2 separate regions of the Homo sapiens genome follow, and region 2 is linked to region 1. The links come from fine-mapping of genetic effects on gene expression. A gene starts in region 1. The other region holds a variant in brackets. All regions are shown on one strand. Distances are from middle to middle. Region 1 holds the start of ARNT (aryl hydrocarbon receptor nuclear translocator). Region 2 holds the start of ENSA (endosulfine alpha).

The links.
Region 2: its variant is fine-mapped to the expression of ARNT in whole blood (TOPMed, PIP above 0.99).

What each region holds. Positions count from the first base shown.
Region 1 is chr1:150,868,029-150,884,329 of GRCh38, reverse strand. It overlaps ARNT (aryl hydrocarbon receptor nuclear translocator), which reads left to right and starts at 7,731. Exons shown (of 22, transcript NM_001668.4): 1 at 7,731-7,787. The coding sequence starts at 7,763. It also overlaps a transcript of LOC107985204 not described here and the pseudogene RPS27AP6. RefSeq lists enhancers at 1-72, 9,166-9,665, 9,666-10,167 and silencers at 7,399-7,672, 7,676-8,105.
Region 2 is chr1:150,614,838-150,631,138 of GRCh38, reverse strand. It overlaps ENSA (endosulfine alpha), which reads left to right and starts at 1,527. Exons shown (of 4, transcript NM_004436.4): 1 at 1,527-1,725; 2 at 3,547-3,672; 3 at 5,331-5,497; 4 at 8,280-9,014. The coding sequence starts at 1,669. The coding sequence ends at 8,295. It overlaps LOC112268239 (a long non-coding RNA gene), which reads right to left and starts at 1,320. Exons shown (of 2, transcript XR_007066603.1): 1 at 637-1,320. RefSeq lists enhancers at 1-832, 833-1,800, 1,543-1,812, 4,433-4,964 and a silencer at 8,192-8,486. The variant CTG/G (reference allele first, on the strand shown) is at 6,894.

The DNA of each region.
Region 1 (16,301 bases):
AGTATTTGAATCTCTATTGATTTACATATTTTGCAGATACATACAAACCTATCTTCACCTTACCTATCCTTTTCCCTTTTGACTGAGCTATTAACCTTTTACTTATTGATTTGAAAATGTATATCTATCTACAAACATAAGTACACACAGATACATTTTTACACATTTTTTACTTATTAATAACTTTTTTGTGATACATGTGGTTCCCAGTGCCTATCCTCTGACTCCAACTCTCTCACTTTTGAATTTGCTATCAACATCAGCTTCCAGAATTAAACCTCTCTTCTCAGTCCAATAACTTCTGGCTTCATTTGCTTCCCAGACCAGTCTCATCCCCTTTCAGATATTTTTAAACTAGGGTCTTCTGCAATTCTAGAATCTTCCATCTTCAAGATACTGATCAGTTCATCATCTCTCCAATTGTGGGTAAACTGTTCACTTTCTTTCCTCAGGTTTCTGAGTATTGACAGAAATTACAATGCTCCATAGTTTCATGAAAATTTATGCTTTCTAACTTTGTCTAGCTCCCCAGAGCATTTGGTGATCTTTTTTTGTTTCCTTTTTCTACTCCTGTGGCAGATTATTCACAGTCGTTTTGTTCATACCTAGTTGACTTCCCAACCAATTGCTTACAGCTGTGCAGCTACACCCACCCTCATTTCTACCTCTTATTCCCAGCAGAAGTTTCACCTGTTACTTTTCTTTGAGACTCAAAGTCATCACACATGAGTTCCCTTTCCTCCACTTCAAAATGTCTACACATTTTTAGAAAAAGGGTATCTTGGTTTTCTGAGAACACTTTCACATGCTGCCCTAACCCTGTCTCCTTCTCTCCCCTAGAACCAGTCTTGTTTTCTCAGGCATATATATTTCTTGCATTTTTTTATTTTTTTGTTTTTTGAGACAGAGTCTTACTCTGTCACTCAGGCTGGAGTGCAGTGGTGCGATCTGGGCTCACTGCAACTTCCAGCTCCCAGGCTCAAGTGATTCTCATGCCTCAGCTTCCCGAGTAGGCGGGATTACAGGTGTGTAACACCACGCCTAGCTAGTTTTTGTATTTTTAGTAGAGATGAGGTTTTGCCATGTTGGCCAGGCTAGTTTCGAACTCCTGACCACAGGTGATTCACCCACCTTGGCCTCCCAAAGTGCTGGGATTATAGGCATGAGCCACCACACCTGGATGTTTCTTGCATTTTTAGTTTGCTCCTTTCCACAAGCTCAGTCTATAGAAATATTTTACTATTTCCACCCCTAGCCTAACCCCTACCGCAGCTACCATTTGATTATTTTTCTCTTCTTTGTCATGTTTCTTGAAAAAATAATCTGTGCTAACTAACTGTGTCTACTTAGTTTCTACTCACTTCTCACCCACTTGCAATCTGGTTTCCATTCCTTAGATGTGCTCGTAGGCTGGGCGTCGTGGCTCACGCCTGTAATCCCAGCACTTTGGGAGGCCGAGGTGGGTGGATCACCTGAGGTCAGGAGTTTGAGACCAGCCTCTGTGAAACCCCGTCTCTACTAAAAATACAATAATTAGTTGGGCGTGGTGGCGGGTGCCTGTAATCCCAGCTACTCGGGTGGCTGAGGCAGGAGAATCGCTTGAACCAGGGAGGCGGAGGTTGCAGTGAGCCAAGATCATGCCATTGCACTCCAGTCTGGGCAAAAAAAGCAAAACTCCATTTAAAAAAAAAAATTATTTGTTGTTTATCCAGCATTCAGATCAAACTGGCTTAGCTTTATTTTTATTTGCTAAATCTGGCAACCATACCCAGAGACACTTAATAAAACTTTGGAGGCTGGTCTGAGTGCCTTGGTGTTTACAACTAATTGATCCCAATCAGTTACAGATTTCTTTGTTCCTTCACTTGACTGGTCTTAAAAAACAAACAAAAACAAAAAACAATTTAAAAACTACCATTCTAAATAATTAAAAAAACCAGTTTACCATAAGAGTTAACAGAAAAAAACTGTAATTTTCTATTAATTTACAAATTAATATAAACATAATAGTAATAGTATTAGTAATGGTTAAATATTGATAAGCTGAAAATGTGTATAAAAACATGTAGATCAGGCTTCACAGTCAACAGATTTCTTAATTTTTTAAAATTTGCCAACTGGCATCCTGATCTGATCTGTTAATTTTTATTTCTACTAAAATTAGAAAATCTGTATTTACAGTGAGTTTGTCAGATATGGCAAGAAATGTTTGATGGCTACCAGATAATTCTGAATAGTTGGAGCTTACAAGGATCTATTGGAGAATTTCTAGTGAAAGCATTCAGTGGTTTGTCAGATTCTAAGCAGAAGAGCAAAGAGTAACCTCAAAAGTCAAATGCTTCAACTTGAGAGAGGGCAGGAGTTGTATTCAGTTGCATTGGCTGCATTCAGCTCTGGGAAGCATTTACCCCCATTTGGTTGCAACATTTGGATGTGGTTTAGAATATGTTCAATAATGTGTCATTCATTTTTTTCCTCTGATGAAGAAAGAAAATTATCATGTGTTGGGAAATAAAATACTCTTGGCAGTCAAGGCATTTGCATCATAGTCTGCTTTTCTTACAAAATCCTGATACTTTGTTCTTAACATTAAAAATGTTTGCTTTGTGATCCACCATCTGCAGGAGAACTGCTACCAAGATGCAGATTTTTGTAATGGGGAAGACATCACTCTCTTATTTGTTGGGGTTCATTGGTTGAACTCTCTAATACAATACAAAATGTAAAGTCCTGGCAGGATAAGAAAGGAATTCCTACTCATCAGCAGAGTGATCTTTGCTGGTAAGCAATTGGAAGATGGATGTACTTTGATGACAGCATTCAAAAGGAGTCCACTCTTCTTATTGTGCTGAGACTTTGTGGTGGTGCCAAGGAAGAAGTATTACACCACTCCCAAGAAGAATACGCATAAGAGAAAGAAGGTTAAGCTAACGGTCCTAAAATATTACAAGGTGGACAAGAATGGCAAAACTAGTTGCCTTTGTTGTGAGTGCCCTTCAGGTGAGTGTGGTGCTGGAGTTTTTATGGCCAGCCACTTTGAAAGACATTATTGTGGCAAATGTTGTCTGACTTACTGTTTCAACAAACCAGAAGACGAGATGGGTTAATAAAAGGCATGAACTAAAAAGCAAAAACAGGCTGAGTGTGGTGGCTTATGGCTATAATCCCTGTGCTTTGGGAGGCTGAGGTGGGAGAATGGCTTAAGGCCAGGAGTTCGAGGTTCCAGTGAGCAATGATGGTGCCACTGCACTCTAGCCTGGGTGAAAGAGTGAGACTCTATCTCTAAAACAAAAACAAAACTCCAAACCATGACATTTAGAAGTTAAAGTAATATGTTCATGTTAATGAAAATATTGCTCAGATGAACCATTTGAGAAACCTACTTAAATCCTACTTAAAATAATAAAAATGGTTTATGTTAGTATTATCTATATCATAAAGAAGAGATTTTCACTTCAATCCTTATTAAAAACTGACAGCATTTCCCCCCCTTACTGGCCTCCATACTTAACTGTGGAGAAAGCACCAATTTATCTGTTTCTTCTCAAAGATTGTGCTCACTGGATGATATTTTACTACATTTATGGTTTGTGCTAATTTGTTCAATGTCGAATCAAAATCAGGAGAAATTTTTTTTTTAGAAATGAGGCCTTGCTATGTTTCCCAGGTTGGCCTCAAACTCCTGGGCTCAAGTGATCGTCCCTCCTCAGCCTCTAGATTAGCTAGGACTACAGGCATGCACCATTGAGCCTGGCTGGGAGAAATATATTTTGGCTATGAACTGTTTTCTGAATAAAATGGAAAGTGGGCTGGGCATGGCGGCTCATGCCTGTAATCCCAGCACTTTGGAAGGCCGAGGTGGGTGGATTGTCTGAGCTCAGGAGTTGGAGACCAGCCTGGGCAACATGGTGAAACCTCATCTCTAATAAAAGCACAAAAAAATTAGCGGGGCAGTGGTGACGGGCGCCTGTAATTCCAGCTACTGAGGAGGCAGAGGCAGGAGAATAGCTTGAACTTGGGAGGCAGAGGTTGCAGTGAGCCATCATGGCACTGCACTCCAGCCTGAGCAACAGAGTGAGATTCTGTCTAAAAAAAAAAAGGAAATAAAAAGGAAAGTGGACTGACATCTTTTTTGTAGGAACAGTGTTCTTTCTGCATCCAAAGTTATAACTCCATCAGTGTTTTTTTGTTTGTTTGTTTGTTTGTGTTTTTTTTGCGACAGAGTCTTGCTCTGTTACCAAGGCTGGAGCGCAGTGGCATGATCTCGGCTCACTGCAACCTCCGCCTCCCAGGTTCAAGTGATTCTCGTGCTTCAGCCTCCCGAGTAGCTGGGATTACAGGCATGTGTCACCATGCCAGACTAATTTTCGTATTTTTAGTAGAGATGGGGTTTCGCCATGTTGACCAGGCTGGTCTCAAACTCCTGGGTCCAAGTGATCCGCCTGTCTTGGCCTCCCAAAGTGCTGGGATTACAGCCGTGAGCCACCATGCCTGGCCTGTAACTCCATCAGTTTTGATCCCAAGATATCTTTTTCAGACTGACTCATACCTCACAAAATAATTCTTATCTAAATGAAAAATGTTTTCTTTTGTATCTTGAATTTTTAATGATAAACCAGACAGGAAGTTTCTGGGCATTTCTCCTTATGTATTGCCTATATGCTGTAAGCGGATTCATATTGTGTATATCAGTGGTTTCTACGCTTAAAACAAACATCTGGTAGCAGGTACAGGGCAGATATTGCCATTTCATGTTGTGTATCATGACTCCATGTGATATTTGACAAAGAATTCTGCCAATAGCTTTGTTACACTTTTTTTTTTTTTTTTTTTTTTTTAGATTGAGTCTCGCTCTGTCACCCAGGCTGGAGTGCAGTGGCCCAATCGATCCCAGCTCACTGCAACCTCCACCTTCCAGGTTCAAGCGACTCTCCTGCCTCAGCCTCCTGAGTAGCTAGGACTACAGGCGTGTGCCAACACGCCCAGCTCATTTTTGTATTTTTAGTAGAGATGGGGTTTCACCATATTGGCCAGGCTGGTCTTGAACTTCTGATCTCAGATGATCCTCCTGCCTTGACCTCCCAAAGTGCTGGAATTACAGGCGTGAGCCACTGCACCCAGCCAGCTTTGTTGCACTGTCTCCAAACAGAATATGTTATTAACTTTGTAGCTAGTTGTGTAAGCAGCTCTATAACAAAATGATTTCTACCAATTTTTTTCTACAGAAATGTAACTTGATCTCTTTTAACCACAAAATGTATCCACATCATACAGGAAAACATTTTGCATTTATTCTGGAAAAATCCATTTTACTTGGTAAAGAAGCTACAGCATTTTTTTTTTTTTTTTTTTGAGATGGAGTCTTGCTCTGTCGCCCAGGCTGGAGTGCAGGGGCACCTCGGTTCACTGCAACCTCTGCCTCCCAGGTTCAAGCGATTCTCCTGCCTCAGCCACCGGAGTAGCTGGGATTACAGGCACGCGGCACCATGCCCGGCTAATTTTTGTATTTTTAGTAAAGATGGGGTTTCACCATGTTGGCCAGGCTGGTCTCGAACACCTGACTTTGTGATCCGCCCTCCTTGGCCTCCCAAAGTGCTGGGATTACAGCCACCCCGCCCAGCCCAGCCAATGTATTTCTTTTGGGTGGATGATTTTTTTCTTTTTGGTGACTTATAAATATAACAACAAAATGAAAGAAAAATGAAATTTTAACAGATGTAAACAATAATATGTAAATTATGTTAAAATACCTTTGCAGTAAACTAAATAAGTGGATCAATGTAATCTGCGCAGTACATATACAACTTCTAAGAATGCAAAGCTGTTCAATAGCATAATGGGATTTTTGTTAAAATTTTAATTAAATTTGTATTAAACATTTTGTGAGCGATACATGAAAATGGAAGTACTTTGTAGTGCTAAAATTGTAGTGCTAAAATAGGGGGATGGGTGGAACAGGTTTCCAGTGTCAGACTCCTTTAGTTTGCCTCCCACATTACTTACCTGCTGGATGTCCCTTGCTTACCCTCTTTGTTTCTGTTTCCTTAATTGCAAAATGGAAATAGCAGTAGAACCTACCTCATCGTTGTTGTGAGGATTAAATGAGTAAATACATATAAAGCATTTTGGACAGTGCCTACCTCGAATAGCTCAATGCTTCCTATTACCAGGAAACAAAAATTAGCCGGGCGTGGTGGTGCGCGCCTGTAATCCCAGCTACTCAGGAGGCTGAGGCAGGATAACTGCTTGAACCCGGGAGGGAGAGGTTGCAGTGAGCCAAGATCGCACCACTGCACTCCAGCCTGGGTGATGGAGCAAGACTCCGTCTCAGAAAAAAATAAAGAAAAAAGAAAATAAATCTGCACAGCCATCATCTTATTGATTCCCTATTAAAAACTCCTCACTGGCCAGGTGTGGTGGCTCACGCCTGTAATCCCAACAGTTTGTGAGACCGAGGCGGGCAGATTGCCTGATGTCAGGAGTTCGAGACCAGCCTGGCCAACGTCGTGAAACTCCATCTCTACTAAAAATACAAAAAACATTAGCCAGGCGTGTGGCGTGCGCCTGTAATCCCAGCTACTCAGGAGACTGAGGCAGGGGAATTGCTTGAACCGGGGAGGTGGAGGTTGCAGTGAGCCGAGATTGCGCCACTGCACTCCAGCCTGGGCGACAGAGAGAGACTCTGTCTCAAAAACAGACAAACAAAACTCCTCACTCTGTCCCTGTCACTGACCAAAGAAGTTACCCATTCTCAAATTACTTTCTTCATCTATTGCCTCCAATTTTGGCTGGCAATATCTCCCATACCAAACCGTTAACACCTGGATCCTTTTAGACTACCGGTTCCATAGCAGGCATTCAAAAGTTAGTCATTTAACTTTTTCACCAGGGACAAAAGTCCTTAAAAGAGGAAAAAAACTGGAAAGGATTACAAATCACCATGTGATGTTTAGGTGCTCTTTAGCACCTAAAGAGGATTTACAAGATACATTGTCTGCACGGCAACCACTCAGACGAATCCACCACCAAGCGAAGGTTTTTAGTAAAATATCCTTTTTTTTTTTTTTGAGACGGAGTTTCGCTCTTGTTGCCCAGACTGGCGTGCAGTGGCGCTATCTCGGCTCACTGCAACCTCTGCCTCCCAGGTTCAAGCGATTCTCCTGCCTCAGCCTCCCAAGAAGCTGGGATTACAGGCATGCGCCACCACGCCCGGCTAATTTTGTATTTTTAGTAGAGACGGGGTTTCGCCATGTTGGCCAGGCTGGTTTCGAACCCCTGGCCACAGGTGATCCGGCCGCCTCGGCCTCCCAAAGTGCTGGGATTACAGACGCGAGCCACCGCGCCCAGCCTAAAATACCCATTTTAATTGCATTTCAATGACGTTACTCGGTCATTGACCTCTTACGCAAGGAGGGCGAGATTAGGGAGACAGCTGGACTTCTTCCTCGCCCTCCCTTCACTGGACTGGCTGGCGCAGTGAGTAGCCCTGCCCTTGGACGATTTGGCATTTTCATTGGTCAATTTTTCTTAGGAGGCTGGCCGTGTGTTGACTCCGCCTACTATATAGGCGGGGTCTCCCCGCCGCAGGGGCTGGGATGCTGGGGGCTGCTGAAGCCGCCATCTTGGATTCCGCGGTAGCGGAGGCGGCGGTCAGGCGCCGCTTCTGGGGAGTGGCCTTTCTTTTCCCCTCCCTCCCGGTTCGGTGGCGGCGGCTCCTCCCACTGGGGGGGGGGGTGGCGCGGCGGCGGTGGCATCTGCGGCCATGGCGGCGACTACTGCCAACCCCGGTGAGGAGACGGAGGACTGGGGCGCCTCTAAAGGGGAGGGGCCGAAGGGGCTGACAACTAAGGAGACCCAGGGCTGAGGGGACGCAGCTGGAGCTGAAGGCGCCGGGGCGGGGCGGGGGCCGCGAGAGACGGTGGGGGAGCGGTGACCTGGGGAGGGGCCCGATCCCGGGGACTTGGGTAGACTCGAGTATACCCAAGGGAGCGAGGGGGCAGGTGGGAGTTGAGGGGGGCTCCCTGTCCTGACCTCCGTTGGAGCGGCAGCCAGTGCGGGGCTGGCCCGCCCTCACTCCTCGGTCGGCGTCTGGTCTGTGATGTGGTCCTCTTTTAACCCTCTGCCCGCTGGAGCCGCTTGATGCCGAAAACTGTAGGCAGAGTGTCTCGGTTTACTTTAAGAGTAGTTTGGATTCATAAACCCTGGACCACACTGCTCTTTAGTTGAGGCGTTGCTTCCAAACATTTAAAGGTTTAGATTTTAATTTAAAAAATAAAAAATGGACATTCTTTGATATATACGACGTTTCTTTAGGCTGTTACCTCCCACCCGCAACCCCCGTCCCCGTCTCCGTCCCCGGACTATACTTTGAAACTTAGATCTTGTGTTAAGAGGGCCTGTAGGTCTTTGCCTGCTGAGGGCAGGGGTTTGTGTAATGGTTATGGTTCCGGACAGGTCTTTAGTTCCACAGCCCCAGGTTTAAATCTTGTTAGGCCTACGTCGAGGCAATTTCCAAACTCTTTCAGAAAAGTTTGATTCCACACCATTTCTCAATTTCAAAAAATAATCAAATATCAAAAAGGTTTGGTCTGTTTTGTCTAAGAGATGGAGTAGGGTGTAGTGCAGTTCTAGAGAGATCAGATCTTCAAATTACTAGTCCCAGCCCTCTTTCCTCTATGTTACAGTTATTCCTCTTTAGAAGGCATTTCATTTTAGGGGTCTAGTTTATCTTGGAGACCTTGGTTATTCTTGCCAAATAAAGTCTATCCTTTTCCAAAAACCAATATATTTGATAGCCTTAAAAAGGGCCTTGAGATATGTGTGTGTGTTGCGTGGGGCGGAGAATTTCTTGAAAATAAAACAGTAGGAGTGATTACCCCCATCCCCACGTTGAAATTTAAATTAGATTTTTTTTCATGTTACTGAAAGGCAGTATGATTTTGCAATATCCAGATTTTGATAGGACAGTTGAATCACTGAAATTTCTTTTCTACCGTGTTTCTGGGAATAGCTATTTTAAGAAATGGTTAATTTGTCACGTCATTTTTTTTTAATCTTTTAAATTTTTTTTGAAGGAAAGGGAGGTAAAATTAATCGCAAAAATTACATTGCAGGAAGTGCTGAGTGATAGAATAAAACTATAAAACAGGAAAAATGCCGTTATGTCAAACCTGACCTTGTAGTAATATAACCTATCTGTGAACTATGGAATAAATAAACAAGATTTTTAACTGATCACACATTGCAAAATACTTATATAACCCTAGTTAAATTGCAAAGCATTTCTCTTATTAAGAAGTGGCCTGGGTAAACAAGTTTTAGTTCATATGTCAGAAGCTTTTTTCCAGCTGTGTGGGTGGGGTTGCTTTATTTTGTTTTGTTTTTTGAACAACAGCAACCAGAATGACAGCCTCTTGACCATATTTTCATAAGCTGATCAATATCAGCTTAAATCTTAGCAGAAAATAGCATATGTTAGTGTGTATGTGTGTGTGCAGAATCCTTGTTAATGAAACAGCTTTGTTTACTATGCTTTGGCTGCTTGCTTCTGCAATTTTTAGATTTCCTTTTTCTTTTTCTTTGTTTTCCTTTCTCCTCTCCCCTCTCTCCTGTCCCCTCTCCCCTCTTTTTCTTTTGCTACAGGGTCTTGCTCCTTGCTCTGTCGCCCAGTCTGGAGTGCAGTGGCAAGATCACTGCTCACGGCAGCCTCCACCTCAGGGGCTCAAGTGATCCTCTCACGATCAGCCTCCCGAATAGCTGGGACTACAGGTGCCTTGCCACCATGCGCGGTTAATTTTTAAATTTTTTTGTAGAGACAGATGCCTTGCTATGTTGCCCATGCTGATCTTGATCTCCTGGTCTCAAGCAAGCCTTGCCTCAGTCTCTCCAAGTTGGGAATACAGATGTGAGACACTTTGACCAGATTTCTTTTTTGATGTTGAAAAATTATTCCATCTCTTCTGACTTATTGATCCCATGTTCAGTTCAATCAAATCAGAAGATATATTTTCTTTTTTCTTTTCTCCCTTTGCTCTTGTATATCATGAGGAAGAGATCAGAGATACATTGTGGATTTTTTCAGTAGCCTGTTGCTTTTTGGGAAATGAGATTAATGAATGGAGGGACATAGGTGGAAATGTACTGTGCTTAGTGAAAGTAAATGTTTTCAGGTCAGAATTCTTTGCTACACTGTCATACCTTCTTTCCTTAGAGCCATTTTAAGGACTAGGGACACCATGCCTATTTCTTTGAGTTTTTTCTACTTTGTATTTTTGCTGGAGTACTAATTTTTTTTTTTTTTTTTTTTTTTTTACAATTCTTGTTAGTTTTGTCAAGATTTTAAAAAATATTTCACTCTTTAACCTTCACTTCAGTTAATCCTTTTTAAAAATAATACTTATTTTTATTTTTCAGACAGGTTCTTGCTCTGTCTCCCAGACTGTAGTGCAATGGTGTAATCACAGCTCACTGTAGCCTTGAACTCCTGAGCTCAAGTGATCTTCCCACCTCAGCCTCCTGAGTATCTGGGTCTACAGACACACACCACCACACCTGGATACATTTTTTAACTTTTTGTAGAAATGGGATCTTGCTATGTTGCCCAGGCTGATCTTGAACTCCTGTCCTCAAGCAATCCTCCCACCTTAGCCTCCTAAACTGCTGGGATTATAGGTGTGAGCCACTGACCCGGCCAAGTTAATCCTTAGGGTTAGTAATAGTGCTTGAACATGTTAATTGTGCTGGTGGCCCTGCAGTGTTTTTCAAGGGGACCACGTTCTTCTGCATTTTTCACTGTGGTGCTGCATTAGAAGAAGAGTAAAATATGGTTGGTACTCTCTAAGAGTTGTGTTGAAGTAATAGTTCTGTGATGATTTTTTTTCTCGAATTGATAATTCTTCATATTCTATCATTTTTCACTAGTTCTACTTATCACTGGCAAGTAGAACTCGGTGGGTAGGTGGTCCATGAAACTTTAGGCTGTTTCTTATCTATGGACTAGACAAGTTTTGTTTTGTTTTTTTTTTGTTTGTTTGTTTGTTTTGAGACAGAGTCTCACTCTGTCGCCCAGGCTGGAGTGCAGTGGTGCTATCTTGGCTCACTGCAAGCTCCGCCTCCCAGGTTCACGCCATTCTCCTGCCTCAGCCTCCCGAGTAGCTGGGACTACAGGTACCCGCCACCACGCCCGGCTAATTTTTTTTTTTGTATTTTTAGTAGAGACAGGGTTTCACCCTGTTAGCCAGGGTGGTCTCGATCTCCTGACCTTGTGATCCGCCTGCCTCGGCCTCCCAAAGTGCTGGGATTACAGGCTTGAGTCACCGTGCCCGGCCCGGACTAGACAAGTTTTGAGGAACACATTTTTTTTCCCCATAGGAGAGGGTCTTGCTCTGTCACTGAGGCTGGAGTGCAGTGACACAATCATGGCTCACTGCAGCCTTGACCTTCTGGGAGCATGTGATCCTCCCACTTCAGCCTCCTGAGTAGGTGGGACCACAGGTGTGCACCACCGTGGCTGGCTAATTTTAAATTTTTTTTAGAGACAGGGTCTTGCTATGTTGCCCAGGCTGGTCTTTAACTCCTGGCCTCAAGTGATCTTCCTGCGTTGGGCACTCCCCAAGAGCTGGGATTATAGGCATGACCACCATGCCCAGCCAAGGTGGAACACTTTTTAAATTGAATGTGTCATTTGTAATGCATTGGCTGAGGGAACAGTTGGGAGGAGATTAGGTATTTGATTTACAATTCCAAATTCAAACTAGAGATGTTGAATGAGTTTGTAGTAAGTGTAGGTTTTTATCTCTCTTGATTCTGGTATTCTCATTAGCAGAGAATTCTTTTTGTGCTATTATGTACAAGTTACTGTGGATGAAGAATGTAGAAGGAAAAGGGTAATACCGTTTGGGTTTGTAAGGCTGTCATTTAGGAAGAAAATTTTTTTTAGCTAATTTTCACCTATATAACTTAGTTTTAACTGCGTCAATTAACACAATTCTTACCTGTTACCTTTATTTACCTTTTTCAGATATGGGAAAATAGGAATTCATGCAATGTAAAGTTAAGATGTCAAGATATTCTTTTATGGCCAGGTGTGGTGGCTCGTGCCTCTAATCCCTTTGGGAGGCCGAGGCAGGCCGATTGCTTGAGCCCAGGAATTTGAGACCAGCCCGGACAACGTGACGAAACCCCTTTACTACAAAAAATACAAAAAATTTTCCGGGCACTGTGGTGCACTTCTATAGTCCCAGCTACTTGGGAGGCTGAGATGGGAGTATCACCTGAGCCTGGAAAGTTGAAGCTGCAGTGAGCTGTGATCATGCCACTGTACTCCAGCCTGGGTGTTGGAGTGAGACCCTGTCCCCCAACAAAAAAAGAGATAGTATTTTATTATATTGCAAAGGCCTTTTTTTTTTTTTTTTTTTTTTTTTGAGACAGGGTCTTACTGTGTCGCCCAGGCTGGAGTGCAATGGCGTGATCTTGGCTCACTGCAACCTCCGCCTCCTGGGTTCAAGCTATTCTCCCGCCTCAGCCTCCCGAGTAGCTGGGATTACAGGCACCTGCCATCACGCCGGCTAATTTTTTATTTTTAATAGAGACAGGGTTTCTCCATGTTGGCCAGGCTGGTCTTGAACTCCTCACCTCAGGTGATCCGCCCACCTTGGCCTCCCAAAGTGCTGGGATTACAGGCGTGAGCCGCCATGCTCCGCCGCCATCTGTTTTTAAGAATGCTGCCTTGGCCGGGCATGGTGGCTCATGCCTGTAATCCTAGCATTTTGGGAGGCCGAAGTGGGCAGATCACCTGAGGTCAGGAGTTCAAGACCAGCCTGGCCAACATGGAGAAACCCTGTCTCTACTAAAAATACAAAAATTAGCCAGGCATGGTGGCAGGTGCCTGTAATCCCAGCTACTCGGGAGGCTGAGGCGGGAGAATCGCTTGAACCTGGAAGGTGGTGGTTGCAGTGAGCTGAGATCGTACCACTGCACTCTAGCCTGGGCGACAGAGTGAGACTCCGTCTAAAAAAAAAAAAAAAAAAAAAAAAACCACGACTGCCTAATATGCCATAATGACTTTAGTAAGTAGACATCAGTGAATCTTCAGGTTGGAAATATGACAACACCTATCATTTTACACTTAAGGAGACAAACCCAGGGAAAGGAGTGGATAATTAAGTTCCTTCTATATGCCAGGCTGCACTTTCCTATTTTGTTGCTAATCTTTATGTCTAGTCTGTAGCAACTGTCTCCAACTTTTCACATAAACTCTTCAAATTTATGTCACTTTTCATAATTTCGTCAATGTATTTTCTTGTTTTAAAGTTTTTATTATTTTAGATAGTGACCGGGTCTCACTATATTGCCCCGGCTGGTCTCAAACTCCTGGGCTCAAGCAATCCTCCTGCCTCGGCCTCCCAGAGTGCCGGGGTTACAGGTGTGAGCCACCCTCTGAGGCCCATTTTATATTTTCCCTCCACGTTTTCATTGTAGTTGAATGGACAAGTAAGTTTATGGATTCAACAGTATACTTAGGGCTGGACATGGTGGCTCATACCTGTAATCCTAGCACTTTGGGAGGCTGATGTAGGTGGATTGCTTGAGCCCAAAAGTTTGAGACCAGCCTGGGCAACGTGGTGAAACCCCATCTGTACAAAAAAATACAAAAAATTAGCAGGGTGTGGTAGCATTCCCTGTAGTCCCAGCTACGTGGGAGACTGAGATGCGAGGATGACCTGAGCCTGGGAGGTTGAGGCTGCAGTGAGCCATGATTGTGCCACTGCATTCCTGTCTGGGTGACTAGGAGACAGAGTGAGACCCTGTCTCAAAAAACACAACAAAACCAGCATACTTAGGATATAAGTTCCATGAGAGCAGAACTTTTGCTTTCCTTGTTTACCAGAGCATTGCAGTGCTTACAGTGGGTGCCTAGTATGTTGGATTAGAGTTCAATGTATGTTTGTGGAATAAAAATGAATGTAAAACCCACTGTTAATATGAAATACCTTTGAAGGGATAAAACTAATTAAGCCATTGACATCATGAATTTGTACTAACTATAATAATATCTAATATTTATTAGTAATACTTACCAGCTGTTCTCATTTAATTTTTATAACAATCGTATTAGGTAAGTATTATTATTCTTGTTTTACAGATGAGGAAACTAAGGCACAGAGAGTGAATAAGTAACTTGTCTGAAGTCACATAGCTACTAGAAGTTAGAGACAGAATTTTATTGTTGGCAGTCCATCTACACAGTCATCATTCTTAATCTCCAAGTTATGATTTTTTCCATTGTGACTTAGAGTCACCTTCCTACTGAAATATAGTACAATGGATATCTTTTGAGAAGGAGGTAGGTGGAGTATTGTCTTTTTTGTAGATGAAAAGGGTGAAATACCACATTAGGCAGCCTGGGGGCAAGGCATTGCTTGGTTGGAGAACCAAGTGCAAGGTGCTAAAAAAAGGAGCTAGAACAGTAGTTTCCAGGCTGAGTGTGGTGGCTCATACCTGTAATCTCAGCACTTTGAGAGGCCAGGGTGAGAGGATTGTTTAAGCCCAGGAGTTGGAGACCAGCCTGAGCAATATAGGGAGACCTTGTCTCCACAAAAATATATATAAAAAAATTAGCTAGATGTGGTGGTGGATGCCTATAGTCCCAACTACTTGGGAGGCTGAGGTGGTGGGAGGATCTCTGAGCTTGCTAGGTCAGGGCTGCAGTGAGCCATGATCATGCCACTGGACTCTAATCTGGTTGACAGAGTGAGCCCCTGTCTCTAGGAAAAAAAAAAAAAAAGGAGTAGTTTCCTAAAATCTTTTCTGTAACATTCTATAATTCTTCATTTTGTTTTGTTTTGTTTTTTTGAGACTGAGTGTCCTTCTGTCACCCAGGCTGGGGTGCAGTGGCACGATCTCAGCTCACTGCAAGCTCCGCCTCCCAGGTTCACGCCATTCTCCTGCCTCATCCTCGCGAGTAGCTGGGACTACAGGCATCCACCACCATGCCCTGCTAATTTTTTGTGTTTTTAGTGGAGATGGGGTTTCACTGTGTTAGCCAGGATGGCCTCGATCTCCTGACCTTGTGATCCGCCCACCTCAGCCTCCCAAAGTGCTGGGATTATAGGCTTGAGCTAGCGCGCCCAGCCTAACATTCTATATTTCTTTCTCCTAGTTCTATGTTTCAATTCTTTAAATACTTTTAAGGGTTTTTTTGAGACAAGGTCCTGTTGTGTCAGCCAGGCTGGAGTGCAGTAGCGTGACCATAGCTTCCTGCAACACCTCCAATTCCTAGGCTCAAGCGATTCTCACTCCTCAGTTTCCTGAATAGTTGGGACCATAGGTATGCACCATCATGCCCAGCTAATTTTTTAATTTTGTAGAGACAGGATCTCGCTATGTTGCCCAGGCTGGTCCTTTTTTTTTTAAATTTTATTATTATTTTTTGAGACGGAGTCTTGCTTTGTCACCCAGGCTGGAGTGCAGTGGCGTGATCTCGGCTCACTGCAACCTCTGCCTCCCGGGTTTAAGCGATTCTCCTGCCTCAGCCTCCTGTAGCTGGGACTACAGGCACGTGCCACCGCGCCTGGCTAATTTTTGTGTTTTTAGTAGAGACGGGGTTTCACCATGTTGGCCAGGATGGTCTCGATCTCCTGACCTCGTGATCTGCCCACCTCGGCCTCCCAAAGTGCTGGGATTACAGGCGTGAGCCACCGCGCCCGGCCTGCCCAGGCTGGTCTTGAACTACTGTCCTCGAGTGATCCTCCTGCTGTTGGCCTCCCAGATTGCTGAGATTACAGGCATGAATCATGCACTGCAGCTTTTAGGATTGTTATTAGAATCCTCTACAAGTTCTTGATACTCCATAATTGAGCCTCTCCTAGAAACTTGGTTTCAGAGACACTGTTGCTAGGTCTTTATCACTGATTGTTCCTTCTTTGTCCTTTTTGCTTATCTTTCTGCTTGTTTCTTTCTCTTGTTCAGTATGCTTCTACTTTTCTCTTCTCACCCTTGAGGCTAGGACTCTTCTTTGAGACAGGGTCTTGACTCTTTTTTGAGACAGGGTCTTGCTATGTTGCCCACGTTGGTCTTGGATTCCTGAGCTCAAATGATCCTCCCACCTCTGCTTCCTGAGTAGCTGGGATTACAAGTGTACACCACAGTGCCCGGCTTGGGGCTAGAACTAAATAGTAAACCAAGCAGTTTCCTTCATTTCTTCCCATTTGCCCACCTACCTGCCTTTCTAGCTGCTTGCCTTCCTACTTCAATTTGACATTCACTTGGTACCTACCATAGTCCTCTTCCCTTTGTATTAG
Region 2 (16,301 bases), 250 kb after region 1:
CTCCATAAAGAGCACTTCTTATCTGCCACTCTTTTTTTTTTTTTTTTTTTGAGACGGACTCTCACTGTCACCCAGGCTGGAGTTCAGTGGCGAGATGCGATCTCGGTTCACTGCAACCTCCGCCTCCCAGGTAAAAGCGATTCTCCTGCCTCAGGCTCCTGAGTAGCTGGGACTACAGGTGCACGCCACCACGCCTGGCTAATTTTTGTATTTTTAGTAGAGACGGGGTTTCTCCATGTTGACCAGGATGGTTTCTATCGCCTGACATCATGATCCACCCTCATCGGCCTCCCAAGGTGCTGGGATTACATGCGTGGGCCACCGTGCCCAGCCTTGTTTTGTATTTCTAGTAGAGACAGGGTTTCACCATGTTGGCCAGGCTGGTTTCGAACTCCTGACCTCAAGTGATTCGCCCGCCTACGCCTCCCAGAGTGCTGGCATTACAGGCGTGAGTCACCGCGCCCAGCCAGGCCTGTAAGCTTTCTAAGGGCAGAGACTGCCTTACTATACACGTACCCCCCCCAACTAACACAGTACCATCCACATACAGACAGACGCCCAGGAAATGTTAAACTGTAATTCTGGATAGGTTAACTAGTATTAACCGTATTTACCAAATGTTTACCACATACTTACACTGTCCTCCTTGTTTCAAGGAGCGTAGTCCCCAAGGGATCACCCTGATGGAATATAAAAACTACACATAAGAGTGAAACTACGGAACGTAAGCCATTAGTGTTTTGCAAGACAGCTCGGGTTGAGACTCAGTCTCTCTCTTCCACAGGCCAAGTGACACATCGTAATACCATTGGTACCGTTTTATTTTATTTTTCGCGACAAAGTCTCGTCCTGTCACCCAGGCTGGAGTGCAGTGGCGCGATTTCGGCTCACTGCAACCTCCGCCTGCAGGGTTCAAGCGATTCTCCTGCCTCAGCCTCCCAAGTAATTGGGATTACAAACGCCCGCCACCACGCCCGGCTAATATTTGTATTTTTAGTAGAGACGGGGTTTCACCATGTTGGTCAGGCTGGTCTCGAACTCCTAACCTCAGGTGATCCGCCCACCTCGGCCTCCCAAAGTGCTAGGATTACAGGCGTGAGGCACCGCGCCCGGCCTGTTAGTACTACTTTAAAATCGAATCTGACCTCCAAATCATTTTCTGGAGCTCGATCATTTTCTGCTAACACCGCAAAGCTTAATCCTCTCCACCTGAGAATAAAAGGTTCCATCCTTCCGCTCTCCAGTTTGACGCCCTGCTAAGTCTCTCGGACGCGGTGGGCTGGAGTGAAGGAAGCCGGAGCCCACCAAAGCTGCAAAAGTACCACAGCCAGCAGCCCCGCCCCCGATATCCCCCACAGGCTTCCAATTGGTCCTTGTGGCTCACTCTCTTTCCAGGTTGGTGTTCCAGCTTGCCGGTCGCCTCTATAGAGCCCACCTTTAGACGGCGACTATTGGTAGATCGTTACGTCATTGCCCTATCTACCTCACTCCCACTGGCTCTCATAGGAAGGGGCGGTCGCAACGTCACGGGCAAGGGCCGCCATTTTGACTGAGCAACCCTAGTGACAGGAGCCGAAGCAGCAGCGCAGGTTGTCCCCGTTTCCCCTCCCCCTTCCCTTCTCCGGTTGCCTTCCCGGGCCCCTTACACTCCACAGTCCCGGTCCCGCCATGTCCCAGAAACAAGAAGAAGAGAACCCTGCGGAGGAGACCGGCGAGGAGAAGCAGGTGAAGTGGAAGGGGTGCGGGCGGGCGAGCTGGGGAGACCGTGATGGGGCGGGAGACGGTCTCCCACCAGTGCGGATTGGTCGCCATGGTCTCAGGCTCCGCAGGGGTTGGCCACTTTTTGCGTCACGCTGGGTGAGCTTCAACACGACATGCTGCTTTGGCGCTGGTTAGTTGGGTCGTTTGTCACTCAGTACTGTACTCTTCCTGATTGGCCAATAGGCCTACCGCTCAAACCTTGGACGCTGTGCTATAATTGGCCGAGCATGGACGTGGGGCGGGTGGTTGGAAAGACGGTGAATGGAAAGGGGATGGCTGGTGGTCTTGGGTGTGATGTGTGTTATTGGTTTGTAGAGGTAAGTGACCCAGCAACCGGGCTGGGGCCCGCAGCCTCAATCCGCAAAGATAGGGGTCGAGGTAAAGACGTTTAAAAAAAAACCAGTATTGGGGGAGGGGAGAAGTGTAGTTATTATAATGGCTAGTTTAAGGCGGCAACTTTCTCAAGAGACCTATTTTAGTAGCTAAGGATGGTCTATTGCTCACCTTCAGTGAGGACCCAGCAATATTGAAGAGGGCTAGAGTTCCAAACAGAATCATGGTAATTAAACTTGGAAAAGACGCCGACAGGGTCGTGAGAAAGACACTTCTCTCTTCCCCTAGACTTCCAAGGCAGGGACTTAGTGCACCTGCGATTCCGTGATGGAAACACTAACGCCAAATAAACCCCTTATTGGGGTTTGTATTTGACTTTTAAAATTTAGTACTGGGTTCAGGTACTCATTAAATACACTTGGTGTTATATCTATGCGTAATTTCCAAGAGAAAGGAATATAATTCCACTAAAAAGAGTCATACGTTGACTTCATATCTTTTCAAAAAGTCACTAAAGGGCAGCAGGGACCACAAAAAAAAAAAAAAGAGATTGACTACAGTAGTGAGAGTCCCTGCACCACCAGGGTAGGTATTGATTTTTTTGATGAAAACTGGTGGGTAAATACTAGTGAGCCTACTGTATCTTTGTTTTCCTGAGGTTAAAAACAGTATCATTTTCCTCTCTGTTTATCAGCTTGCTACCATAATATTTGTGGAAATGTTGAAGCAAGGCTGTGCCATTACTCAGGTGGAGATCTTTGGAGAAGGCCACATAGCTAGCCGCCTCCACAGGGAGACCTAACAGGTGGCTTAGACCTTGAATAAAGAAGGAACTGCTTTGTCGTGTAGCAATTTTAAAAAAGAAAGAAAAAAATAAGGAGGAAACATTTAGCAAACTATTTTTTGTTGTTGTAGAGACGGGGTTTCAACATATTGCCCAGGCGGGTAGTGAATTCATGAGCTCAAGTGATGCACCTGCCTCAGCCTCCCAAAGTGCTGGGATTACAGGCATGAGTCACTGCTCCCAGCCCCAAACTATTTTTTTTTTAATTTCTCATGTGACATGTAGGATAGCCTAGGGAACCCTGCTACTCATCCTCTATCACCAGAAGCCCTGCTTTTTTCTCTTTGTCTTTCTTAGCATTTGTGCTGAGTGATATGGCCCACTCTGTGATTAAAGTATTGTGTTTAGTATTACCTTTAGCCCAATACGCACAGGTCCCTGGCTGGTTCCTTGGGTGAAGTGTGAGAAGCAGCTTGTCTTTTTCTCTCACAATAGTCATCTTGAGCTTTAGGGATTTTAACAAAGGTCTAGCTTTAACAGCAGAGTAGAGATAGCGTATTTACAAGTGGGTGGATTTCCAGGAGAAGTTGATAGTATAGTTGTTATCAGATGTGAGAAGCTGTTGTTTCTCAGTCTTTAATTTTATTTGGCTCATTTGTTTTCTCCAGGACACGCAGGAGAAAGAAGGTATTCTGCCTGAGAGAGCTGAAGAGGCAAAGCTAAAGGCCAAATACCCAAGCCTAGGACAAAAGCCTGGAGGCTCCGACTTCCTCATGAAGAGACTCCAGAAAGGGGTATGGGGCATAGTCTCTTACCCTCTTTCTTTGGAGCTAAAGGAGGTTCTTCGAATGAAGTCTGTAGAGGTTCTACTGGATCCTTTTCTGGAGGTTTTGTTGTTGAACAGAAGTAGAGGCGAATTTGAAATTTGAAAAGAGCAAGTCAAATTAATGTAAATCCCTGATGTGGTATCAATTCCCTCCTGATTTCCCATGTAGGAAATTAAGGCCTAAATTGGAGCATTTGGGTGTGTGGGGAAATGAGGGAAAGATGTTAGAAACTGAAATGCAGACTGCCCCCAGGCATTTGCCTGTTTGAATGTTGGAGGTTTTAGGATTGTGCACTTTTTAAGCATTAGAGATAAATTTTGGGATGCATCATTTCAGAAGAAGATCAAACCATCTCTCCTACAGAAATAAATCCTCAACTTGAAATGAATCAGTTTCTTCATACCCTTGAAGTGAGCACCAGCCATTAATTATACTCCTGCAGCAAATGTATTTTTCTTGTTCAGAGTGGTCCTCCTTACCAAGAGAGAGTCTACTTTCATAGCCATGTAGCTCCTGATCAGATTTTTAGTTCCCAAAGGTACCTAAAGCTGACTGAGGGATTATATTATCGTTTTTTAAAAAAAAAATTTGGCCAGGCGCAGTGGCTCACGCCTGTAATCCCAGCACTTTGGGAGGCCGAGGCGGGCGGAGCACGAGGTCAGGAGATCGAGACCATAGTGAAACCCCGTCTCTATTAATAATACAAACACTTAGCCGGGTGTGGTGGCGGGCGCCTGTAGTCCCAGCTACTCGGGAGGCTGAAGCAGGAGAATGGCGTGAACCCGGGAGGCGGAGCTTGCAGTGAGCCGAGATCGTGCCACTGCACTCCAGCCTGGGCAACATAGCGAGGCTCCATCTCAAAAAAAAATTTTTTTATTTTCCTTACTCTCCTCTGCAATGACTGTAGGATTATAAATCATTACATTGGAGTGTGCTTCTCTGTGCGGATGAAATGGTGGGTGAAACATCCCTGTGGAGGATCCCAGTTATTGAGTCTTAGTCACAGATGATAATGTGATGCTGATTTGCATTTACCTTGCTGGAGGCAAGGCAGGCGTGGGCAGGCTGTCACAGTCATGGAACATGTGTGGGAGCTGTGAGAGTCAGAAGGAAAATACATTATCCTCATGAACAGGCCCAGTTTCTATTCCTGGTCTGGGAGAATAATCATTTTGAGGTTGTTGGCTTGTGGTTGATCTCCTGGTGGCTAGGATAGCCCCATATTTATCCTTCTCTATATCTTATTCATTTCTGTTTCTCCAGTTCCAGGCTATTGCCCTGTACCCAGTAAGGTCCTCAGTTACCCTTTATGAATAAGTGATTTTGGTGGAACGATCCTCTACTGAGTGGAGTACAAAGGATGGCAGGGGCTATCCCTTGACTCCAAAACTATATACTCTAGCTGGGAAATTGCTTATGTACCTGAAAAAGTCAGAACACACTGGGGAGAAGACATAAGTACATGTAATTAATGTTAAACTGTGTATGCATGAGGTTAATCAAGGAAGACTTCTTGAAAGATCCGAGTGTGCATGAGGGTTTATAATGGATGTGAGATGTGAGTCTCCTTGTTTTTGAGGAAGGCCAGAGTCCTCACTCACCTAAACCTCCCTCTTATCTCTTAGCAAAAGTACTTTGACTCAGGAGACTACAACATGGCCAAAGCCAAGATGAAGAATAAGCAGCTGCCAAGTGCAGGACCAGACAAGAACCTGGTGACTGGTGATCACATCCCCACCCCACAGGATCTGCCCCAGAGAAAGTCCTCGCTCGTCACCAGCAAGCTTGCGGGGTAACCTGAGCCCCCCTCTCCTCCCCTTCCTCAACCACTGGACGTTTATATATTATAGGCAGGGATGAAATGGGCACCTAGTCAGATCTTCTCAGCTTGCTAGCCAGAAATGACTGTGATTCTGCTGGGGGCTGCTGAGAAGGTAATGTAGGTTGAAAAGGGGCTCTAAGTTTATTTATTTCGTTAGATTGACACTTCCACACACTCCCTGTAGTCCAGGTAGGGCCCAGAAATAGGAAAGGCTAGGATTGGATAATGCTGCAAATGCTTTTTTTGTGTGAGAAACTGGAGAGATGTGATTTCTCCTTTTGGGAGAGAATGTCCCAAAATTGATTAGGCTGAGCCTTGGGAATAGTTTGGCAGGTTTAACATCCCAAGGCTAACCTAACGTAGTTGGGAAAGGTAGATTGAATGAGACATGTTTTCTGTGCTTCTAAGTGTTCTGTCCCTTAGGCTGCTATTGCTTCATGTTTCCATTATGGCAGGTTTAGAGAATCCTTAAAAAGAAAAATTGACTTGCTTGCCTAAAACTACAGTGCCCCCTTAGCCTCCATTACTTAGTATCTCTTACAGTTTGCTCTGGCTCTCAAATAATATAAAGATTGATGAACATTATTCACAGAAAATGGGCACCTTCTCTCTCTCTTCCAGCATGTTGCTTTTGAAAGTATCATGGGATAGTGGGACGAGCACTGGTTTAGGAGTCAAGATATCTGGGTTCTCACTCTACTCAGTCCCAGCAGAGCTGTTGTATAACCTTGATTAAGTCATTTAGCCTCTCTGGATTTCTATTTCCTCATCTGTAAAATAGAGTTAAATGTATGTAAGATTGATTCTGATTCTGAAGTCTTAACTGCCAGCAGAAAAACTCCATACTGTTCATTGTAAAACTAAAAGTGAGGAAGGCTCGTGGGTGGTGAACCTCTGCTCTGTAATACTGGGAAAGTACTACAGAGGGGAACCATTTGAGGGATACATGAGGAGAGAGTAAATTGAGGTTTGGGGATTATAAATTCAGGCAAGAGAACCTTATAGATATCACAGTCTTGAGGGTCAAAAAAAAATACTTAGGAAGCTAGCCATGGAAGCTTCTTGCCTCTGACCCAGCCCACTTTCCCAGCCTACCTCTGGGCCTTAGCTGCTAAAAAGCTTCTCTGGCAGCGGAGCTGCAGGCCTGAGGAAACATGCTCAGTCATGCACATGTGTTGACCCATGTTTCAGATGCAGTCTGATGCCAGGTATATTGTTAGGGAAAGAGGAAGAAGGGTAAACTGAGCTAGCCCCTGGGGCTGAGTACTCCTGCAGGGCTGGAGGAACAGGTTCTTAGAAGATGATTCACCTTGGAGGAAGCTGGGGAAAGTGGTTAGGGAGGGAGAGGAGGAAGACTGAGAAATCT[CTG/G]CATCCCCAGAACTCAGCAACCCAGCTCTTTTATCATGAGGAGAGGTAGCCATGCTGACTCATGAACAGGTGGAGGAAAGGGGTTGCAGGTGACCAGCATCTTCAATCTAGTTACCACCAGCTTGGCTAGAATTTTATTGAACGCAACTTGCTAGTTATGACAGAGAGGACCAGGGTGAGAACTAATGCTCAAGAGAGCAAGATTCTGTAATCCTCTTGCCCTCTCACATCACAAATTCTGATATGCCAAACATTTGGCCCAATGAGAATGACTGATAGACTTGCTGATGTGCATGTGGGGGGATGAGGTGTGTATATGCCTTTCTCCTGACTGGCCATTCAGTGTTCAGGCTGTCATTCAAATTGGATAGGAGAAAGTTGGTGAGGAAGGAATGGAGAGAGCAGGATCCCTGGACTCCCTGGTCCCCAAACTCCTTGACTGTCACTTGTAATTGTATATAATTTTTGTGTTTCTTGCTCCATTTCCTCATGCTGTCATCCTTAAAGTCCATCTGGGAAGGGGAAAATGCTGAACACCATTGTATAGTTTCTTCAACTGTCCCAGCCATGTTGTACATAGATATGTCATGTTATTATATATATAAATATATATATAATTTTGTACGTTTTCTTCATCTCCGATCTTCTCAAATTCTGTACTTTTTTTCTTTTCTGTCTGAGCTGCCTTCTCTATCATTCAGCTTGAGTCCTCAAGACTACTGGTCACAATGAGTCTGATTTTTAGGAAGGAATAGGAGGAGCAGGGAAATCAGAAAAACTGTTGGTCTCACTCTGTCTCTCTACCTGGTCATCTTCAAGGCTAAGAAAACAAACAAGCTACATTCTGTATTTGCCAGTTTCCACAGCATGAAGTACATAGCTTCCTTAGCAAGGAGTGGTCATTCCAAAATCCAAATGCAAATTGCTTTGATTAAACCTAGATTATTAAATCCATTCAGAACAGCATGTGTGTGGTCTGGTTCTGGCCTCCACACAGTCACCACCTCATCTCTGTGCTACCTCAGTCTTTGCAAGTAGCTGTGGCCATGCCTCTGAAACAGCCTGCTCTGAGCCAGGCAGCTTACCCACCTGGAAACCTCCAGTTATTTTGATCTTATCTAAAGAATTATTTTTCTATGTTTGTTATCCATGGATATCCCAGAAAGGCAGATAACGTTGTTTCGTGGATAGGAAAAGACTGAAATTCTATTTTTTGATTTTTTTTGCAACTCCCTTATGGATAGGATTGAGACATGCCAGGTAGCCTAATGGTTGTTAAATGTGGAGGAATCATGGGGTAGAGACTGGGTTGGAGTTCAGGGTTTTTTTCCCCTATTACTTGACAGTGTTGTTTTTTTTTTTTTTCTTCTGTGTTCGTCCGCAGTGGCCAAGTTGAATGATGCTGCCCGGGGCTCTGCCAGATCCTGAGACGCTTCCCCTCCCTGCCCCACCCGGGTCCTGTGCTGGCTCCTGCCCCTTCCTGCTTTTGCAGCCAGGGGTCAGGAGGTGGCTCGGGTGTGGGCTGGAGAGGCAGAAGCCCTTTCCTGTTGGTGTCCCAGCACATGGAGCCCCTTGGGCTGAGCACCAAGACCTTGAACCTTTTTTGTTTTACCTTTTTTCCAAATAACAGTTGGGAGAAATATCAATGAAATTCTGGGGGTGGGGGTGGGGTTGAAAGGGTGGGGTGGGAGATATGGAGGAGTATGAATTAGGGCTTGGAGTTGGTAAAAACATTCCTGACTATCCTTCTTAACCACGTGGCTGATGTGGGGTAGGTATGAGGGGAAGGAAGTGGAGTAGCCTAATGAAAAGGGGTTCTAGTTGAGCTCTGTAGATAAATGCCTTGTTTCAGTGTGGTTGGAGACCTGGTGTCAGATAAAAGAAACTCCATCCGCACAGACAGATGCAAACAGCTCCTCTAGTTCTGCAGAGCTAGTTGAGAACTCAACATTAATCATTTTAAAAAGTACTGTCCTTGAAATAGATTTGCTGTGGGAAGAAGGGCAGTGAGTGTGGGAGAAAGGAGCCGTGAGCGTGGGGAACCCCACAGAGCCCAAAGGACTTTTTCAGTATTCGAAATAAACAAAACAAAAACCCATGAAAAAACCCAACCCAGAAATATTCTGAAGCAGTTGGTGTGTTTTATTGGGGTTTGGGAGGGGGAAGAAAACAATACTGAAGACATTGTTAATGTGAGATGCGGCTGAGTTCCCCAATACCATCACTTAGGAAAGGGAGCAGGAATGTTGGCATAAACCTTGCCCATCCCTTTGTTTCTGTAACCAATGTAGAAGGTGCATCAACCTCAGTTTGTGGCTCACAAAATGAGGCATTTAAGATATTTGATCTAAATGGTTTCTTGACACCTAAGCCTAGTCCAGGTTTAGCAGAAAAGGAGGCCCAGTCTCCTTTTCCCTCTGTCTTCCATTCCTTTTCAAGTTCCCATGTTTGTGAGGGAGAAATGTGACAAACCAAAAGAAATATATTATTTCTTTGTAATAAGCCAAAAGAAACTCAAGTCTTTCTGCTGGTGGCCAGCAGGAGGCAGAGTGATTTCTTTCCTCATGATGTGCCAATCTGCATTGCTGGAAACCTGCTACTGAAAGAAGTTAAAAGCTGCCTGTGAATGTAACGTACAAAAGAAAGGTTACCAAAGGAGAAAAAACTCCAGCGGGTGTACGGTGGCTCACGCCTATAATTCCAGCACTTTGGGAGGCCAAGGTGGGTGGATCACTTGAGGTCAGGAGTTTGAGACCAGCCTAGCCAACATGGTGAAACCCCATCTCTACTAAAAATACAAAAATTAGCCGGGCGTGGCGGCACATGCCTATAATCCCACTTACTTGGGAGGCTGAGGTAGGAGAATCGCTTGAACCCAGGAGGCAGAGTTTGCAGTGAGCCGAGATTGTGCCATTGCACTCCAGCCTGGGCGACAGAGCGAGACTCCATCTAAAAAAAATAAATGAATAAAATAAAACAAGTACAAATTTAAACTAGAGACACAAGTTAATGGTGTTTATTGTGGTGGGGTTAGTGAGCCATCCCATGATTTCCTCCTGAGTATGTTATCCCTGGTTTGTGTTTGCCAGCTGGGGAATGAGGTGAGGTCTATGAGGCTGAATGTGGGATCATTCAATTTCTTTCTTTCTTTCTTTTTTTTTTTTTTTTTAGAGGCAGGATCTTGCTCAGTCACCCAGAATGGAGTGCAGGGTGCAAACACTCACTGTAGCCTCAACCTCCTGGGCTCAAGTAATCTTCCCATCTCAGCCTCCCAAGTAGCTGGGACTACAAGCACACACCACCACACCTGGCTAATTATTTTTTGTAGAGATGAGGATTCACCATGTTGTCCAGGTGAGTCTCAGAACACAGGCTTAAGCACTCTTCCCATCTCAGCCTCCCAAAGTGCTGGGATTACAGGCATAAGCCACTGCGCCTGGCTGAGAATATATTTTCATCCTTTCTTTTGTAGAGAGGATCTCGTTTTGTTGTGTAGGCTGCTCCTGAACTCCTGGCCTCAAGCAGTCTTTCCACCTCAGCCTCCCAAAGTGCAGGGATTACAGGTGTGAACCACTACACCCAGCAGTTAGTGCAATTTCATTTTAATACAAGTGAGGAAATTAAGGTATAGAGATAAGTTACTTGTAAAGTAGAAAAGCTAGTTAGCTGAAGAGCTTGAGTTAGTATCTTAGGCTTTTATATTATTTCTTCCCACTATTCCTGGCTTCCCTGGTCCTCAATTTTAATTTGTGGCCTTAAGAAGCCTGGGGTGCCAAAAATGTTTGGGGCTATCTGTATTTCATGTTACTCCTTAGCCTTTTTTTTTTCCTTTTAGTTCTTCACCACTGCACACTTGGCAGGATGTATCCCATTTTAAAACTTGACAGTCCATCTCCTTCACTCCCATACTGTAGGGCTAGGCAAGCAAAGCAAACTGATTCTGCAATGCTTCTAATAGTTATTCCTGCTCATTATTTTAGCTAGATGTATTCTAAAGTCTTTATCCCAAAGAGTTGAATCAAAGGTTCTTCCACTCCTCCAACCTGATTGTGCTGACAAGCCACTAAGCTGAGCCATCTAATATACAGGGTGGCAGGGATGAAGTCACCGTTACTGTCCAACAGCTTTTATTTTAAGCTGGTGTGGGCTGGGCATATCAAAGACAGGCAAAGAAAAATAACTTGGAGAGTTGCCATTGAGGATATATCCACAGTGAGCCAACAGCACCCACACAAGCAGCCCTCGTCTGTATAATGCCCTCTACTGGGTCTTGAGGGAGATTAAAAAGAAAGATCTCTTCCATCCTGGGGAACCTGAGATATGACAGCAGCACACAAATACAGGCAGATTTATAGTTCTAAGCAGAGTTCCAGTAGCTAAGCTAAGGGAAGGAGAGTCAGGAGATAAGCTGTTAGCTGAATTTTATTAAAGACAGATGACTTCACTAGTAAAGATAAAGTGGGACCTCCCGTGGTTGGGCTGCAATATTTTAAGTCCCAAGTGACTGCTGAATACTCGCTTTGCAGTTGGAAAAATAAGCTGTTTTTGGCCAGATAAACAGTGTAAGAGGTCATCTCTGCTCTAGAGGAACATGTAACCTAATTGAGACACTTCTACATATAATGCAAGATAGCATATGGTTAGTCAAGTAGTAGAATTCTGAGAAGAGAAAATCTGACTGGACTCATTAGGTAAACATAAGTGGTGGAAATGGACATTTAACTGGGCCTTGAAAGGTGGGTAGTATTTAAACAGTGCAGTTACTTAATAAGTGTCCACAATATGCCTGGCATTGTGCTAAAATACAAGGTAAATTGTATGTGGCTGCCTCTTTCAAGGAGATTACATTGTAGTGGTGACCTACACATGAAGAAATCATATTACAGTGTTAAACTTACAGCAGTGGTGGTCTAGCTATACAGAGGAATAGGGACAAGTAATTAATTAATAATAGTTGCTTTTTTTTTTTTTTTTTTCTGAGACAGAGTCTCACTTCGTCACTGGAGTGTAGTGGTGTGATCTTGGCTCACTGGAACCTCCACCTCTGGGTTCAAGTGATTCTGCCTCACCCTACGGAGTAGCTGGGATTACAGGCATGTGCCACCATGCCCTGCTAATTTTTGTATTTTTGGTAGAGATGGTGTATCACCATGTTGGCCAGGCCAGTCTTGAACTCCTCACCTCAAGTGATCCACCCACCTCAGCCTCCCAAAGTGCTGGGATTGCAGGCTTGAGCCACTGCTCCTGGCCTGTTGGTTTTTTTTTCTTTTTAAGACAGAGTCTCACTCTTGTCGCCCAGGCTGGAGTGCAGTAGTGAGATCTCAACTCACTGCAACCTCTGCCTCCTGGGTTCAAGCTATTCTCCTGCCTCAGCCACCTGAGTAGCTGGGATTACAGGTGACTGCCACCACACCTGGCTAATTTTTGTACTTTTAGTAGAGACGGGGTTTCGCCATGTTGCCCTGGCTGGTCTTGAACTCCTGACCTCAGGTGATCCACCTGCCTCAGCCTCCCAAAGTGCTAGGATTACAGATGTGAGCCACCGCGCCTGGCTGTGGTTTTTTGTTTTTGTTTTTTGTTTTGTTTTGTTTTGTTTTTGAGGCAAGGTCTTGCTCTGTTGCCCAAGCTGGAGTGCAGTGGTGTGATCTCAGCTCACTGCAACCTCCACCTTTTGTGTTCAAGCGATTCTCGTGCCTCAGCCTACCAAGTAGCTGGGACTATAGCCATGCACCACCATGCCCGGCTAATTTTTGTATTTTTAGTAGAGACGGGGTTTTGCCATGTTGGCCAGGCTGGTCTTGAACTCCTGACCTCGAGTGATCCACCCGCCTCAACCTCCCAAAGTGCTGGGATTACAGGCATGAGCCACCGCACCTGGCCTTTTTTTTTTTTTTTTTTTTTTTTGATACAGGGTCTCTGTCCCCCAGGCTGGAATGCTGGAATGCAGTGGTGTAATCATGGCTCACTACAGTCTCAGCTCCTCACTACGAGGTCAGGAGATTGAGACCATCCTGGCTAACACGGTGAAACCCCGTCTCTACTAAAGATACAAAAAATTAGCCGGGCGTGGTTGCAGGCGCCTGTAGTCCCAGCTACTCGGGAGGCTGAGGCAGGAGAATGGCCTGAACCCAGGAGGCGAAGCTTGCAATGAGCTGAGATCGCGCCACTGCACTCCAGCCTGGGCGACAGCGAGACTCCGTCTCAAAAAAAAAAAAAAAAAAGTTCGAGACCAGCCTGGCCAACATGGTGAAACCCCCGTCTCTACTAAAAATACAAAAATTAGCCAGGCCTGGTGGCGGGTACCTGTAATCCCAGATACTCCGCAAGCTAAGGCAGGAGAATCGCTTGAACCCAGGAGGCGGAGGTTTCAGTGAGCCGAGATCAAGCTACAGCACTTTAGCCTGGGCAATAAGAGTGAAACTTCATCTTGAAAAAAATAAAATTTTAAAATCCTGATTTTTTTTTATAACTCTGAACAAGTTTCTTTAACTCTCTGCCTCAATTTACTTACTTGCATAATAGTAACGACATGGTACCTACCATGAGGGTGGTTGTGATGATTAAGCAAGATAAGGCTTGTAAAGGCCTTACTTCAGGGACTACAAAAGTGCGTAAAACATGGTTCCAGCTGGGCGTGATGGCTCGCGTCTGTAATCTCAGCACTTTGGGAGGCCAAGGCGGGCGGATGGCCTGATGTCAGGAGTTTGAGACCAGCCTGACCAATGTGGTGAAACCCTGTCTGTACTAAAAATACAAAATTAGCCAGATGTGGTGGTGTATGCCTGCAATTCCAGCTACTTGGGAGGCTGAGGCACGAGAATTGCTTGAACCCGGGAGGCGGAGGTTGCAGTGAGCCGAGATTGCGTCACTGTACTCCAGCCTGGGCAACAAGAGCAAAACTCTGTCTCCAAAAAAAAAATAAAACATGGTTCCTGCCCTCAAGGAGTTTACAGTATACAGAGGGATATAATAAAAACAGACAGATAAGGAATTAGAAGGGATTGGTGCTAAGACAGGGACAAACACAAAATGCTCTAGAAGCACAGAATAGGGGAACCTACCCAATTTGAGGAGGTGGAGGAAGGACAGGAAAATCCTGTCACAGAAAATAGCTTCTAAGCTGAGATCTGATGAAGTAGAAGAATTTATTCAGGTAAAGGGGTTAGATCGGGAAAGGGGTCTTCTGGGTAGAAAGAACTATGTAAAGTGATTCAGAGTTATTACATTCTGCAAACTGGGAATAATTCACAGTAACTGTAGTAAGCATCCAAGGGGCAAGGCCAAGCTGGGTGTAGTGGCAGGTGCCTGTAATCCCAGTTACTCAAGAGGCTGAGACAGGAGAATCCTTGAATCCGGGAGGCGGAGGTTGCAGTGGGCCGAGTTAGCACCATTGCACTCCAGCCTGGGCGACAGAGTGAGACTCCGTCTCAAAAAATAATAAATGAAGTAACAATGGTGAAGTTTGAAGTAACTCAGGTGAAGTAACACCTAAGTGGAAATTCCATACTCCACTCAGTAAACCATTATCATGGGCTAGTTGAATTGTAAGACACTTTATTATGTTGCTACAATATTTCAGGTGAGAGATGATTAGGAACCAAGGAAGGTAATGACAATGGGTATAAAGAAGAGTAGACAGGGCTGGGCATGGTGGCTCACGCCTGTAATCCCAGCACTTTGGGAGACCGAGATGGGGGGGATCACCTGAGGTTGGGAATTCAAGACCAGCCTGGCCAACATGGTGAAACCCCATCTCTACCAAAAATAGTAAAAATTAACCGGGCGTGGTGGCGGGTGCCTGTAATCCCAGCTACTCAGGAGGCTGAGACAGGAGAATCACTTAACCCAGGAGGTGGAGGTTGCAGTGAGCCAAGATCGCACCATTGCACTCCAGCCTGGGCGACAAGAGCAAGACTCCATCTCAAGAAAAAACTCAAACACCAAATACAAAAGAAAAAGGACTGGAGTATCCATTTGATTTGGCAGTTAGTAACCTTTTTGAGACCAATTTCAGTGGATTTGTAGAGGTGAAATCTGGCTTATAGAACTAAGTAATATGGAGAGGTTTTGTGGTTGTTTTAGGATGGGAATAATTCAGGCATATTTATTGAAAGAGTGAAAGGAATAAGTAAAAGCTGGAGCTCAGTAGAGAATGATAATAACCAAAAAGCAGGGTTCTGAAGAGAAAGGAGGTGAAATGAGCACAGGTGGATGTGGTTTAGTTACATGGTCTACTTCTGCAGACGTTTGCTGAGCACTTACCGTGTGCCAGCCACTCTACTAGGTGGTGGGGTTAGTCTACTTGGGAAGCCAACTGAGTGAGAAAGTGGTCTCAAGTAGGACTATATATGCCTCATCCTGCTGGAGACTCAAGGCGAAAATATAACAGTAAACTCCCAGCTGATTGTTTTTGACTGGGGCTAAGTAATTTATAGGAGTCGTTGTCTGACAGCTTTAGTCAGACTTGTAAAGTAGGATGTTAGAGAGGTGGGAGTGTAAAAAGTATAGCCATAAAAGGACATAGAAGAGAGGAGGGGCGGAGCCCAATGACTCAGGCGCCTATAATCCCGACAGTTTGGGAGGCTGAGGCAGGAGGATTGCTTGAGTCCAGGAGTTCCAGACCAGCCTGGACAACATGGTAAGAACTCATCTGTACAAAAAATAAAAGCCAGGCATGGTGGCACACGCCTATAGTCCCAGCTACTTGGGACGGTGAGGTAGGAAGATCTCGAGCCCAGGACGAGACTGCAGTGCACAATTATCGTGCTTGTGACTAGCCACTGCACTCCAGCCTGGGCAACATAACCAAACCCCATCTCTTAAAAAAGGTGGGGAGGGGTGGTTAGGAAGCAAGCAATGTTGAGGTTCTAACAGATTGGTACCATGAACATGTAATGGTACCAATCCATATCTTTGTGCTATTTTCTCTAGAAGCACCTAGCTCCCTGGGTACAAGAGCAGGGACGACATTATTGTTTAGATCCTGAGTCAGGATTTGTAGACAGATAAAGTATACTAAGAAGGAAGCAAGGGGATGAAAGTGCTGGTGAAAGATTAAAGAATCTCTCTGATTATAGCTAGATAAGAAAATAGGCTAAGGAAGTTGTGATAAACTGGTCAAGCCAGGCGCGGTGGCCCACACCTGTAATCCTAGCACTTTGGGAGGCTGGGGTGGGTGGATCATGAGGTCAGGTCAGGAGTTTGAGACCAGCCTGGCCAACATAGTGAAACTCCGTCTCTACTAAAAATACAAAAAATTAGCTGGGTGTGGTGGCGTGCGCCTGTAATCCCAGCTACCAGGGAGGCTGAGGCAGGAGAATCTCTTGAACCCGGGAGGCAGAGGTTGCAGTGAGGCAAGATTGCGCCATTGCACTCCAGCCTGGGCAACGAGCAAAACCCTGTCTCA